2 linked regions of the Homo sapiens genome follow. The protein of the gene in region 2 purifies or fractionates together with the protein of the main gene of each other region. This does not show direct contact. Each region holds a gene or a part of one and is shown on either strand. Other genes may lie near its edges.

Region 1 (7,879 bases), on a different chromosome or scaffold from region 2:
CTAACTCTTCTCCAGATTCTACAGGGACCATTAATTTTTTGTTTACCACACTGTTCTTTTATTTATTTATTTATTTTGAGATGGAGGCTGTTGCCCAGGCTGGAGTGCAATGGTGCGATCTCGGTTCACTGCAACCTCCGCCTCCCAGGTTCAAGCGATTCTCCTGCCTCAGCCGCCCGAGTAGCTGGGATTACAGGCATGTGCCACCACGTCTGGCTGGCTAATTTTGTATTTTTAGTAGAGATGGGGTTCCTCCATGTTGGTCAGGCTGGTCTTGAACTCCTGACCTCAGGTCATCCGCCTGCCTTGGCCTCTGAAAGTGCTGGGATTACAGGCGTGAGCCACCGCGCCCGGCCTTACCACACTGTTCTTAAGACAGATGATAATAAAGTCACTTGACAGAAAAACTGGGTGCAAAATGTGTGGCTTTGATTTACAGGCTGACTGAAATTAAAGCTTTCTTTCTGAACTTAAACCTCAAAGCTACAGGTAATTTTTTTTTTTTTTTTTGAGAAAGAGTTTTGCTCTTATTGCCCAGACTGGACAGCAATGGCGTGATCTCGGCTCACCGCAACCTCCGCCTCCCGGGTTCAAGCAATTCTCCTGCCTCAGCCACCCAAGTAGCTGGGATTATAGGCATGCGCCACCACGCCCGGCTAATTCTGTACTTTTAGTAGAGACAGGGTTTCTCCATGTTGGCCAGTCTGGTCTCGAACTCCCGACCTCTGCCTGCTTCGGCCTCTCAAAGTGCTGGGATTACAAGCGTGAGCCACCATGCCTGGCACAGCTATAGGTAATTTAAACAAAATAGGTGAAAAAATTTCTAGCTATAAAATGGACACAATTTAGTCTTAAAACTCAAACAGAATATTGAAACATTTACAAATAGAAAAAAGCTCAATGCATTCTACAGAACAAAAATGTCCAGTCTTTTCCTATATAGTTAAAGCCAGTGATCCCATTTTTATTAATATCTGCTAAAACCCATGTAGCAGTTTGTAGATGTAGTTATTTACTCAGGAATCCTAAGACACAAAAAATAAACTAAATTTTAAGCAGCTGTTTCAAAAAAGACTATACACACATAAAATAGGATTACACACTTTAATCTGATTGACACTGAGGAAGTAGGGAGGACATGAAAGAAATTTAGTTTTAGCTCTGCTTTATGCATAACCAGATGCTCCTTTTCTAAAAAGTATATTGAGGTTTTAAAAAACACATTTATCAGAATACTTCAGGAAACCATACTATGTGTAATCCAGGAAATACACTATTTGCAGAATAGGAAAATCATCACTGGCAACAAAAGATTAAAACAAAAATAAAGCACCAGGGTTCTGAGCAGTTCTAAGGTGAGTATATCAGCAGAAATAGTGTAAATGCTCTTGACTGGTTGCTATGCAAACATGCTAATGAGGACTAGTCCATGTCTTATAATTTTTTTTTTTAACATGTTTCTTTGGAAAAATGGCAATATTGAGTGGAAGAGAAGCTGTCCTTTTAGACACCCAGCTTATTGGCCTGGGTGAGAACAACTTTGAGAACTGGCATGAAAGCAGAGGTCTCACTGAAGTTGCTGGTGCTAACTATGTGGGTATGCATGGTCAATCCTTCTGAGTAGTTTCGAGTTTCAATGCTCCTTGCAATGTTGTGTAAACCACTGGTGATTGTTGGTGAAAGCTGAAACAAAAGTGAACCAAGAGAAAGAATTAAATTAAGGGATAACTTCCCATGAGATCCTCCATAAACATTAAACCCAGATATTTAAGTGGAATTTGAAACAAACATTATAAAAATATATAAACCATTTAGCATTTCTAGAAAGTTTCTTGAACCAAGCAACAGTTATCAAGTACAACCACAACAAAATGATTTACATAAATAAGTTATTTATGAATTATACATGTATAAGCCAGGTATTTTCTTACAGAAAAGCAGCCCGATTTCCTCTCCAAACTGAAATGCTAATTTCTCTCTCCACTTAAGAGAGCTTCAGACCTTTAAAAAATTCTCCTATGCACAAAAAGGAGATTAAAGATTCTTAATCATAATATCTCAAAGGAAGGGCCCAAATTTACTAATTCTTACCTGCTTTTTATAATCCTGTCATCTCTTAAAACTATAAAACCTGTAGTTTTTTACTATGTCATTACTTGGCATAGGTGTCCATACTTTACAGAAGACTTTATTTGGATTTTTTTTTTTTGAGATGGAGTCTCACTCTGTCACCCAGGCTGGAGTACAGTGGTGCGATCTCGACTCACTGCAACCTCCGCCTCCCGGGTTCAAGCGATTCTCCTGCCTCAGCCTCCTGAGTAGCTAGGACTACAGCCGTGTGCCACCATGCCCAGCTAATTTTTGTATTTTTAGTAGAGACGGGGTTTTGCCATGTTGGCCAGGCTGGTCTCAAACTCCTGACCTCAGGTGATCTGCCCGCCTCAGCCTCCCAAAGTGCTGGGATTACAGGCGTGAGCCACCATGCCTGGCCTATTTTGATCTCATTTTTAAAAAATGTTTTAATATATACTCATCTAGATGTATACGCTAATTGTATCTTCTGTTTTTTTTTTTTTTTTTTGGAAATGCGGTCTTGCTATGTTGCCCAGGCTGGTCTCAAACTCCTGGGCTCCAGTGATCCTCCCGCATCAGCCTCCTCAGTAGCTGGGATTACAGGCATATCCCACTGTGCCCACCGAGAAGACTTTATTTTGGATCAGTCCAAGGACCACACTACTTCCACTGTTATATCAACTTTCTTTAGTTTGGTTCTCATGAGAGAAATGGTTATTTTCATCTGATGGAACTGAGTGTGGGGAATGGGTTAGAGGAATGCTGAAATGGAAAAAATAAAAAGAAAGTCCCACTTCTTTTTTTCTTCTCCTTTCCTAGTGCTTTCATTAATAAAACAAGACAATTTTAGAAAAGAATGGTGAGGTGGGGACAAGAGAACAAACGTAGTGAACTGACTTCTTACTCCTGGCTATCTTCATAGTTACAGCACATTACCCTATTCATCTTGTGGCTACATTTGGCTTTGCTTTTGTATAATGGCTATCCTAAAAGAAAAGGGTCAAGAGTCTTAGACTATGATAAAGATTATAGATTTAGTCCCTGGAAAACAGAGTATCTGCATACTCTTTGATTTCTTGTAACTGGGCCATATAAAAGGAACAGCAGAAGGTCAGCTACCTTATGGCCAACACAGGCCAGTTTGTATTTATACTCTTGTTATGAGAGGGTTAAAATGTCTCTCTCAACACACCCACACAAACACACACACACACACCCGTATCCCCTTAACCCCAGTGAGTGGAATTTATGATTCAACACAGCCATGCCCATTCTCTAAATGTCATGACAATTTTGCCCCCATGCATACTAAATGGGAGTGCTGATAAGACAACTGTTTTACTAGCAACTAGGAATAAATGATTATCATAAATCCTTTTCCTCCAAAACTTACTGTCTGTTCCCTAAGTTTATCATACAGAAACTCCAAACGTTTGCTGGCATCATCTAGCTTCCTCTTGGTTTGCTGCAGGAAAGAAAAAATAGATGTTATATTTGAACATTAACTTTTAACCTAAGAACTTGCCCTATCTCATTGCACTAAACCTTATACTTAAAATGTTGAATGGCTTCATTTTATAAAGAAATGGAGGCAACTACAACTAAGAAACTTGAACAGATTATGGCCGGGCGTGGTGGCTCACGCCTGTAATCCCAGCACTTTGGGAGACCAAGGCAGGCAAATCATGAGGTCAGGAGTTTGAGACCAGCCTGGTCAACATGGTGAAACCCTGTCTCTACTAAAAATACAAAAAATTTGCTGGGCGTAGTGGCAGGCGCCTGTAATCCCAGCTAGTCGGAAGGCTGAGGCAGGAGAATTGCTTGAACCCAGGAGGTGGAGGTTGCAGTGAGCCGAGATCACGCCACTGCACTCCAGGCCCAGGCGACAGTGCAAGACTCCGTCTCAAAAAAAAAAAAAAAAAAAAAAGAAACTTGAACAGATTATTAGAACAGAGATCAATCATCTATCAAGGGTGGAGGGTGGAGGGGACTGGGATGAGGAGAGGATGAGACTTACTTCCAGTGCATGAAAGAGTACTGATTGGATTTCATATGAACTGCAAACTCACTTGATAAGGTATATATGCATGTTTGCTTGCACTATATTCACAAGCATCAGGAGGCAGCAATGGGTCAGTGTATCACAAAAAAGAAGGTCTAAGTAGTTATTGTCGATTATGGGTGGTAGAAGGCAAACATATAGGTGAACTGTGGAATCTTGTTTTAACCTTTCAAAAATACTACTTAAACACTTAGTTACATTTGTTTAATCCTGCCTTTTTCTAAGCCTTTAAAGCACCAAGAAAGAAAGAAAACTATCTTTTGGCAGCTTAAGATTACTGAGGGAAGTAGTAAAATAAATTATTAAATTAAAAAGCTTTTTTTTCTCTCTACCATAGCACTGTAAAGTATAATCAAAGAAACTATTCTAAAACTAAAACTAACAGTTTTAAAATTACATGATTAACTTAATGTTCTACATTATACCACAGCCTTATGTTAGTTCAATATTTATTGGCTGCTTACTATGTGCTGTACCAGGGACAAAGTCTTGTATGTCATGTAGCTCATATCCCACTGGGTGAGAAAAGATACTAAATGAACAATATATTGCATGTCAGATGGTGATAACTGCTATGAAGAAAAGTTAATAGAGGAAGGGGGCTAAACATGTTGGGAGTTGGGGGTAATAAAGAAAGGCCTGATGGCTAATGGGACATGTGAGCAGAGGCCTTGAACTTGGGAGGAAACAAACAATGCAGATATGTGGAGGAAGAGTTCCAGGCAGAAGGAGCAGCAAGTATAAAGTCCTGACGCTGAAATGCTCTTGGTGTGTTCAAGGAAGGAATGCCAGTGTGCTTGGAGAAGAGAGAGAAGAGACAGGCCATCAAGGATGCTACATACCAAGTTGTGTGGCAAAATTACTTTGTGCTGTTTAGACATAAAGTGAAAATAAGATACATCCATGCTATAAAAACTATTCCAACTACTGATTAAAATGAACTTTTGCGGAAAGGAAACCTTACAATCCTTGCTCAAAGTTAACCTGGCCAGGTGCGGTGGCTCATGCCTGTAATCCCAGCACTTTGAGAGGCCGAGGTGGGCGGATCACCTGATGTTGGGAGTTCGAGACCAGCCTGACCAACATGGAGAAACCCTGTCTCTTCTAAAAATACAAAATTAGCCGGGCGTGGTGGCACATGCCTGTAATTCCAGCTACTAGGGAGGCTGAGGCAGGAGAATCTCTTGAACCTGGGAGGCGGAGGTTGCAGTGAGCCGAGATTGCACCATTGCACTCCAGCCTGGGCAACAAGAGTGAAACTCCGTCTCAAAAAAAAAGAAAAACAAAGTTAACCTTATCTAGCTACAAACAGGAGCCCTACCCCAAGGGGGCAAGGGCAGCCGGACAGGCAGGATATTAGAACTTCTTCCCCAACTAATTACAGAAATTATAGGAACACTTTGTCTTTTATGGTTCTCTACTACCCAGAGCTCCTCGGTATCCAAGAGGAATATAGTATGATGACCGAGAGAAGGGTAAATTAACAAAAAATGTATTGAGTTGGGCCATGTATTACGTGTCTTCCCAACCTCTCTATACTGACTCACGCCTGAAGAATTGGTGTGTTGTCATTCTTATTCAGATGCTTCCATTTTTGAATGACTACAGCCTGTCTATTTAGAAGTGTGCATAAGGGCTAGCATGTATCTGGTTATCAGCTTCGTCTGCTCTCTTGTTTCCACCTTGGTCTTCCCATCACTCCCAGAATGTCAGGCACTAAGGTTTATGTTAACTGCTTTCCTGATACTTTCAGTACAGAGAATGGCTTTCCACAAAGCCACTGACCAGCAGAAGGCTGCACATATTAATACTCAATGTCTGATGAACAATAAGATCTAGAAGATGTTTTTTCATGCAGACAAGTAGCCGATGATTAAAAATATTCAATGTGTGCTAGCAGAAAATGAAATTTCACTTAAGACTGGCTTTGTGGAATGTTTGTTGTTGCAATACAGGGGTATCTTAAGTAAACTAAGTAAAATCAGTTGCTTTAAATGTAAATATGCCTCCGATATCTAAAACATTTAACTATCTTTAACATCTCTGCAAAGCTTTAGAAGATGATCTATCTACTTTTAACAATTTCAATATAAGCTCAGAAAGAAATCCCAAATCTGAGTTTCTTGCATAGCACCATTATGCTCCATTTATGTGCCAAATACAGTTTTGTTGATGAGAGGCAGTATAGCTTGGTGGTTGAGAGCATGAATTCTGGAGCCAGACAGTCTGGGTTTGAATGCTGGCTCTGACCTTAAGTGTTACTTAACTGCTCTCTGCCTTACTTTTCTTGTCTGTAAAATAAAAATGACAAATCTATCTGCCATAGGTTATTGTGAAGATTAAGTACATTTATATATAAAAAGCAATTAAATATATTTCTATATGTAATGCAAACTATGTAAGTGCTAGCTTTATTACTTTTGTACAAATTTTTAGAAATATACCTTGTAGGACTTCAAACAATAATTATAGAAGAACTCCATAAAGAATTCTTTTATTTTATTATATTTTATTTATTTTGAGACGGAGTCTCTGTCACCCAGGCTGGAGTGCAATGGCGCGATCTCGGCTCATTGCAACCTCTGCCTTCTGGGTTCAAGCAATTCTCCTGCCTTAGCCTCTCGAGTAGCTGGGACTACAGGTGTATTCCACCACACACAGCTAATTTTTTGTATTTGTAGTAGAGACGGGGTTTTGCTATGTTGGCCAGGATGGTCTTGAACTCCTGGCTTCAAATGATCCACCTACCTCGGCCTCCCAAAGTGCTGGGATTACACGCATAAGCCACCACACCTGGCCAAGGATTCTTCTAATTAAGCAAAATATGATTTAAAAAAATAAATACATACAGGGTCTGTTGCTGAAGAAAGGCAGCGCTGAATAAGATCCTCAAATGTGGTCTTTAGAATGAGGTGCTCATCTGGAATAGGTTTCTTGGTAATTTTTTTTGTTGGCAAAGACTGCACATGCTGGAAGAAACACACCAAAAACTGATCAGAAATGACCAGAAGCTACCTTATATACACAATCTTGAATCTATGTGATAAACAGAAACCGACAACCTTGTACATAGACCTATTCAAAATCAAATTAAAATTTAATGTGTGAAATCACTTACGATAAGTAAAAATAAAAACCAGATATCTAGTACAAAGTGTAGGCGCTCTTCCTACAGTTTGGATTTTCATATGCAGGACTGGATACAAAGTAGTTGATTAATTTAGGTAACATATGTTGGTCAATATTGTTTATAACTGATGGGAAATAAGTATGTGCCAGCAGAGAATAAAAACAAGGCACTGGAAAACACACTCGGCTGGTTAGAATGGCTGCTTGCTCTGCCTATTGGCTCATTTACGTGTATGCTGGCATTCTTCTATTCTTTGTTTTACTCTTAGAGGTTGTTAACTGGGCTGTGATCAAAACTGCAAGATTAAGCCAAAGATTAAGAGAGAAGACATCCCGATGCTGCTGAGTATACAGATGAAAGAACAAAGAAGAAATGTTTAAGTTAAGTTTTATTAGTTCATTCTTTCACTCATTCAAAAAATATTAGGCAACTATTTACCAGGAACTGGCTACGTACTACTGGTGAGCCAATACAGAAATGATCTCAGTTCTCAGGGAGTTTACAGGTTAATGGAAGAGGCACAGTTTAAAAACATCACCAATGTACATAAAATAGCAACTGCAGTACGTTAACACGTAGTGGAAACAAAAGATGCTATAACTGAGATTTGACTG
Region 2 (7,879 bases):
GCAAGGAGAATCACTTAAGCCCGGGAGGTGGAGGTTGCAGTGAGCTGAGATCACACCACTGCACTCCAGCCTGAGCGACAGAGTGAGACCCTGTCTCAAAAAGAAAGAAAGTAAATAAAAGAAAGGAATCGCTTGTTTAAGATTTGAAAAGAGAAAACCTGAGGCTTAATGGCACTGTGAGGTCACCACATAGTCCTTGGACCACATTGCGTTTTCTTTCCTCCTCCTCAGAGCAAACAGATCTCCAGAAATGGATCTTTGCAGTCACAGGCAGAAGAGAAATGACTGTGTAGTGTGATGCAGTTGGGTTTGATATTTCTTAAGATTACAGTTGTCAATTAAAATGACCAGAGGATGAAAGCTGGATCTACTCCTTACTCCTAGCACACCCTAAGCTTGACCACCTCCTCCTGGACCCACACCTCCCTCACCTTTGAAATACTTGACAGTCTTCACTTTCAGCTCCAAGGTGGCATCCTCGTCACACACAAACACGGTGCGGGGATGCTGCTGGAAGGCAGACACGGTCCACATGTGGTTCACTCCCTCCTCGATGGCCTTGTACAGAGCAAATGCCTTGTGAGCACCTGTGATAAGGATCATCACCTGGGGATCAGAAAACAAGTCTGTGATGGAGGGGAGCATTCCAGACACCCTAAACAGTTGTAAGGATGATTGTTTTTCATATCACATTGTAAGTGGTTACCATGCAACATACTTTTGCTCAGTGCTCCCTGTGCTTTATCACACAAATAACCCGAGGCAGGCAGCATCATTATCTCCATCTTATAAGAAAACAGAGCCCCAGGGGGTTAAATAACTTGCCCAGGGTCATTTATGACCCCAAAGTTCATGTTCTTGACTACCACGTGACAGTGCCTCCAGGTATCTTTGATGATGACTATGAAGGTGCCCTGTAAACAGACATGCCATGCCCAGGCCTGCTATCCCATCAGCTGGGTGACTCTACACAAGCACAGTTTGTGAAAGAGGGCTCCCAACCTGCACCACCAGCAAGGGCACTTTGCAAGCAATGGTGGGAGTTATCTGTGGGGCCTCTAAGGCTGAATCCCAGAAAGGTTGCCCCATTATCTGGTCACTTTCAGTTCACAGCATTAAACCTATGAACTAATGTGACTTGGGGTGATGGTTTTTGTTAATATATAATAAAACAAAGGCACAGTCTCCACTTAACAGTTAAAATATCGAGAATGTAAGTGATCTTAAAGAACTCAGCTCTATTCAAGGGCAGGAAAAGAGAAAAAAACTCAGTTCTGTAGATTTCCTTTCATTTTAATTCACATGTGCCACAGAGTTGTGAACAGGATTTACTGTTCCTTTCTTAAAAGATTAGAATGCAGAAGCAGAGAGGGAATGTGACTATTTCTTCCGGACCCCTCAGCAACCCAGAACTCTTTAGAAAAGATAATTTCCTGATTTCCAGCCCCAGGTCCTTTCCCAGATCAAGATGCCCTCATGATAAAGACGGCCCTAAACCTGTTTCCAAGCTGCAGAGCTAAAAACAGCGAGTAAACACCCCCACCCCACGTACTGATTGAAGATTACCCAACAGAAATCTGGGTGCCATCACTCATTTCACAAAAGTTCACTTTAAACAGGGAAGTTTTCACTGATTTAGATGCTTGTTTATTGGCTTGGGCAAAGAAATGTAAATCTAACATGTCTATACACGTCAGAAAGGAAGAGAAAATGCTTCTAAAGTTCTAATGAAAATAAGGAAATTGGAACCACAAAAAATTCACATTCAAATGATAGCCAATTTTTTAGGGGAAAAGCTAAATTCAGTTTAAAACACTTATATTTTAATCATACTTCACCACATTTATTAATCTCTGAGCACGGGGCTAGAAGCACAAGCATCCTTGGTGTCCCAACAGTGACCTCTACCAACTACAAGGAACAAGGGAACCCCTCTCTCCATACCTGGTCAGGTACAAATATTCCAACATTAGCGATGCTGGCCTCCTCTCTGCCTGTGAAAAGCATGAAAGGGGCCTGAGGCCAGAGAGCCTGCTGTCTCAGGCAGTCAGCCAAAGGCACCAAAAACGTGCTCAAGGGATTCACCTCACACTGGGAATAATGATGTCTTCCAAAGACGCAAGAGGAACAGTGAGTAACAGGGTCAGCAGGGATTTTAGCCTTATTTACCATGCCTTCATCTTTAATAAGAATGTAGGTGGTACCAGTATAGTTAAGATTAACAAGAGAAAGACAAGTCCACCAGCGCAAGCTGGTGGGGCCCTTATGCCCTTACCTCTCTAGCATCCATGACAGTGCCCACCCCCACCGTCAAGGCCATGGTGGGCACCTTGGTGAGTTCTCCATCGAAGAACCTAGCATTGGCCAGGATGGTATCCATGGCCAGCGTCTTCACACGGGTCCTGGACACCAGACTGGAGCCTGGCTCGTTGAAGGCAATGTGTCCATCAGGGCCGATGCCTATAGGGAGAGAGCCCGTGCAGCCCTGTCAGTCCCAGGGATCCAAGATTTCAAGAATGGACAATCTCTCCTTCCCTAACTAGGGTCTGAAGAAAAATCATTGAAAGCTGTGTCACCTTTCTCATTTGCAGCCCTGGGCAGGTACACCTTAAACATGTGATCTGTCCCCCTCCCTACCATTTCTTTCTCTTTGCCATACTGTCTCAGAGGAGACCCTCCCCATCATGTCTATCTGAGGCACACACAGACATTGTTAACTTGCTATCACCCTCAAAAAGCTGAGGAGGAAACACTCCAAACAGCTTCTGCCTCCCCAGATTGTCAGAAAAGTGGACCTTCTCTGTCTCTTCTGCCTGTAGTTAGAGGGTCCTGCTGCTGGGATAGAGGTGCAGTGAACAAAACACCCAGAGAACCTGGACAGGGGCTGCCAAGGTTCTAAAATCTCAGAGGATGAGAGGTCCTGCCCCCCTCCTCCCCACCTTGAAGTATAGAAGAGTGATCTCTAGAGCAATAAAAGGCAGTTCAATGTTACCCCTCATGGGTAACTCCAGAGGTGGCGATAGATGGATACACAGAAGGGCAGCCCAGAGGACCCGAGCACAAATCCAAGAAGCACACACTTGCTCCCACCTGTGAACCTTGAGTGAGTCACCTAACTTCTCTGGGGTTCAACTGGCTATCTACAGGGGCTGTGTGGAGCCTTCCGGAACTACATGAGTCCATGATGTTAAATGTTTAGATAAGTTCCAGGACTGATCCATAAAACCTTAAGACTGGGGAGTAGACAGAATCTCAGAGTCCAAACCCAAACCTCTCAGTTTACAGACAAGGCATCAAACTGCAGAAAGAGATCTCCAAGATAACATAGTTCCTGAGTAACAGAGCCAGGCAGGGCCCATTTCTCCCGCCTCTGTCTCTACGGTCACTAGCACACCCAGAAGAAGCTGTCTGCAGACAGGCATTGTGTCTTGTCCTCCTTCCCACGGGTCTGGCCCTGGACATGTGTGCTGCAGAGTGTCAAGCTCACCTCCAACAAATAGCTCGATCCCACCTGCAGCCTTGATCTTCTCTTCAAAGGCATCACATTCTGCCTGTAGGTCGACTGCATTCCCATCCAGAATGTGGGTGTTTTCTGGGTGGATGTCAATGTGCTTGAAGAAGTTGTTCCACATGAAGGAGTGGTAACTCTCCGGGTGGTCTCGAGGAAGGCCTGTGGGGCCGTGAGACACTCGGTTATGCCTAGGCCAAGCCAAAGCCCCTCTCCTAAGAAGGATGCCAGGACACCATGCTGACCTACAGAGACACTCCCAGGGGTCTGCCCATCTGGGAGCCTTAGGCACCAGCCCTCTGACCCCTAGCCACTCGGCACAGGCTGAGCCAGTATCCATAAGTGTCCACCCACCCAGTACCACCATCTGTGGCCACAGGGCTTGGCCAGAGTAACTGCACACCAAGGGCCTGGGAAATCCCCACATTCTGATCTGATCTGCTTTTCATAAGGCAATGACCATAGGTTAGAGGCTGGGGACACTCTGGCCACCTGGGGTAGGGCTGAACTCATCTTAGAAAGCAAGCAAGCACACCCCTCACCCTGTGCCTCTCAACCCACCATCCACTCCCAGTTCTACCCCACTCAGCCTGAATAAATCCCAGCTTGAACACCAGGTGGTTAGAGAGAACTATCTTAGGGCTTCCCCAGATCAACTTTTTTTTTTTTGGCCAGGAAAAAAAAATAATGTTTAATGTTAAGCATTAAGAATATGTAAAATCAGCCTTAAAAAGGAAGGAAATTTTGACACACACTACAACAATGGATGAACCTTGTGGACTTTATGCTAGGTGTAAGAAGCCAGTCAAAAAGACAAATACTTTATGATTCCAGTTATATACTCTAGTTTGATTCTAGAGTAGTCAAATTCATAGAAACAGACAGTAAAATGGTGGTTTCCGTGGCTGGTGAAGTGGGAAATGAGAAGTTGTTGTTTCACGGGTATAGAGCCTGAGTCTTACAAGATGAAAAGAGTTCTGGAAATTGGTTGCACAACAATGTGAATGCACTTAACACTACTGAACTATACACAGAAAGGTGGTTAAGATGGTAAATGTCATGTTACATGTATTTTACCACAATTTTTTTTTTAAAAAAAGGATGTTTAAAATGAAGCTATTACAAAAGGACTGGGTGAGGGAGAGGTGATAGAAGACCAAGGTATAGTCTTTCAGCAGCAGGAAGGATACCAATCTCAGGTCCCCTTCAAGTGTACCTGGCAGAAAGGGGAGCTGGAGGCCACACACAGAAGAGAAAGCACAGACACAGATCCTAGGGGAAACACCCGAGCCAGGATCCCACTTGCAATCATTTGTTCCAGAAAGAAATGGAATGGAGTTGAGGAGCAGGCAGAGGAGAAGGAGATACTCTAATATTTATTAAGTATTTGTTATGTATAAGAAACTTCCACATCTTTTATCATAAAAGGATTAAATGAATTTAATGCTTACAACCTGTGAGGTCAGCTTTATTAGCCCCATTTTATAGCTGAGTAAACCAAGAGGTAAGTATTGATAATTGAGCCTATCATCAAATGTCACTGGCTCCCCGATTCCTCTCCAGGACTGGGCCAATGAGAGGAGGAGCATCACTCTCCTAGAATCAGGAAAGAACCTTGAAAGAGAAAGACTCACCCACGTACTCATCCATGTTGAAGGTCTTCACATATTTAAAGGACAGGTCCCCATTCTTATAGTATTCAATCAGCTTCTTGTAGCAGCCAAGTGGGGTACTCCCTGCAAGAGTGGCCACACCCATGAACACCCCTTGCACCCCAAGTCTGGAAGCCCAGAGGGTTCACAGGAATAAGTCAGGGCTGCTCACAGGGAGAACCTGTCAGATCTGAAGTCCTACCCAGTACTCCAATCCTAACTGCCATCCATCCATTAATTGCTTGTTTAATGCCTATTTTGCCACTAGACTGTAAGCTCCAGGAGGGCAGGACTGTGTCTGCCTTGATCACTGCTGAATCTCCCAGTATCCAGCACACTGATGACTGAAATCACTCTGATTAGTACCTGAGTGAACATCAGACTTCATTATTGACATGATACTCCCTGAACAAGTAATATGTGCAAGGCACAGGGCCATGTGATAAGGACACAGGGGAGCAAGGGACAGTAGCTACTCTAAGATAACTCACTAGGAGTAGAACACAAAGCAGGAACGTCAGTTGTGATAGGGTAAAGCACAGGCTCACCCAGTGCTTCAGGGTTCAAGGAAGACTTCCCTGAGGAGCAGCGAAGCCCTAGTTGAGTCTCATTAAAAAGTCAATGTCATGGCTAGGCATGGTGGCTCACGCCTGTAACCCCAACACTTTGGGAGGCCAAGGCGGGCAGATCACTTGAGGTCAGGAGTTCAAGACCAGCCTGGAAAACATGGTGAAACCCTGTCTCTACTAAAAATACACAAAGTAGCTGGGCATGGTGGCATGTGCCTGTAATCCCAGCTACTCGGGAGGCTGAGGCACAAGAATCACTTGAACCTGGGAGGCAGAGGTTGCAGTGGGCCGAGATTGCACCACTGCACTCCAGCCTGGCCAATAGAGCCAGACTCTATCTTGAAAAAAAAAAAAAGTCAATGTCATAAAAACACACACACAATAAAAGGTAGGAGGACACTGTATATTAAAAGACTAAAGATGCATGAACCCTGACTGGACACTGAATTAATTTTTTAAAAACCAACCTATAAAAGATAAATGTGGACAATTGAGAAAAAATTGTGAACACAGTTTGCATATTAGATGATGGCATGATTTTTCATTTTCTTAGGTATGATGGTATCATGGTTGTGTAGGAGAATGTCCTTATTCTCAGGAGATATGTGCTGAAGGATTTAGAGATAAGTGTCAGGATGTCTGGAACTTATTTTCATGTGGTTCAGAAAAAAAAAGTGTGTGTGTGTGTAGATAAAGAACAAGAGCCAGAGAAAGGTAAAAGCAAATGTGGCAAAATGGTAACAATTGGTGAATTTAGGTGAATGGTATTGACCTGTTTTTTTCCTCTTTTTTGAATATTTGAAATTTTGCAAACTAAAAAAATGAAAGAAAAAAAACCCATCGAGATTACGTCATGTCACCCCTCTTTTCAAAACCCACCAATAGCTTCTCATTTCACCCTCAGCAACACCAGTTATTCTAAGGCTCCACAGAACCTGGCCCCTGGCTATGAGACCCTCCCTGCCACCATATCCAACACTGCACAGCCCCACCCCTGCCGACACACTCCCTATCCTTTCCTGCTTCATGTTTCTCCTTTCCTCTTATCACCATCTAACATACTCTATATTTTGCTAATTATTATGTCTCTCCCATTATAATTTAAGCCTCAGAAGGCAGAAGTTCATATCCTTTTTGTTCATTGCTGTATCCTTAGAGGCTAGAACAGCTTTGCATACAGAGGGTACTCAATAAATACCTGCTGAGTGAATGGCAGCTCCCCGCAGCCCACCCAAAATAATTAGTTGGTCCGTGTGACAAGGCCTTAGCTATGCCTGAGCCACATAGCTTCCTCTCTCCTGCCATTTTCCAAACTTCTAGCCTTCCCATGAATTCTCTGAACTTCCCAGTATCTAGCCAATAAACTCCTTTTCTGCTTAATTTAGCTGGAGTTGGTTTCTGTGGTTTCCACTCAGAACCCTGACAGGTGCTACATCTAACAGAAGCAATGTTCCAAGGAACCCGTGTGGAAACGCTGTCCTGTTGGTTCAAGCAGGACAGGCAGGGAGAGGCCAGGTTTTGGAGGGCCTTGAATGCCACTCTGAAGAGCTTGGATCTGACTCTGCAATGATGGGAACGAGGGAATGGTTTCAGAAGGCCAGACTCTGACCCATACAGAGGTTGGGTCTCTCCACAGTTAGGAGACAGGATGTTAGCACAGCCTCCGAGGGCCTGAGACATTGGTAGTTTCACAGGCACAGGTGGATACTACTCCCACAAACCTCTAGTGCAGAACTCAGCAAACTTTGGTCCACAGGCCAAATTTGGCCTGCGGCCTTTATTTTTTATTTTTTTAGACAGAGTATCGCTGTCACCCAAGCTGGAGTGCAGTGGCACAATCTCAGCTCACTGTAACCTCTATCTGCTGGGTTCAATTGATTCTCCTGCCTCAGCCTCCTGAGTAGCTGGGATTATAGGTGCCCGCCACCATGCCCAGCTAATTTTTATATTTTTAGTAGAGGCAGGGTTTCACCATGTTGGCCAGGCTGGTCTCAAATTCCTGACTTCAAATGATCGACCCACCTCAGCCTCCCAAAGTGCTGGGATTACAGGCGTGAGCCACCACACCCGGCCCTGTGGCCTGTTTTTATACAGCTTATGAGTTAAGAATGGTTTTCTTTTCTTTCTTTTTTTTTTTTTTTTTGAGACAG

Evidence for each region. Proteins that work in one complex are often made in the same cells at the same time.
Region 1: the proteins of GNPDA1 (region 2) and SEC31A purify together in Homo sapiens (affinity purification with mass spectrometry; 2 studies listed by BioGRID and IntAct, with this or other methods). This does not show direct contact.

Annotation. Positions count from the first base shown.
Region 1 is NC_000004.12:82,817,571-82,825,449, forward strand, and holds the end of SEC31A (protein transport protein Sec31A), read right to left. Parts: intron 7,105-7,879; coding exon 6,985-7,104; intron 3,539-6,984; coding exon 3,467-3,538; intron 1,684-3,466; coding exon 1,504-1,683; 3' UTR 939-1,503; downstream 1-938. UniProt on the Homo sapiens protein: Component of the coat protein complex II (COPII) which promotes the formation of transport vesicles from the endoplasmic reticulum (ER).
Region 2 is NC_000005.10:142,002,657-142,010,535, forward strand, and holds part of GNPDA1 (glucosamine-6-phosphate deaminase 1), read right to left. Parts: intron 5,245-7,879; coding exon 5,143-5,244; intron 3,671-5,142; coding exon 3,488-3,670; intron 2,461-3,487; coding exon 2,276-2,460; intron 607-2,275; coding exon 432-606; intron 1-431. UniProt on the Homo sapiens protein: Catalyzes the reversible conversion of alpha-D-glucosamine 6-phosphate (GlcN-6P) into beta-D-fructose 6-phosphate (Fru-6P) and ammonium ion, a regulatory reaction step in de novo uridine diphosphate-N-acetyl-alpha-D-glucosamine (UDP-GlcNAc) biosynthesis via hexosamine pathway.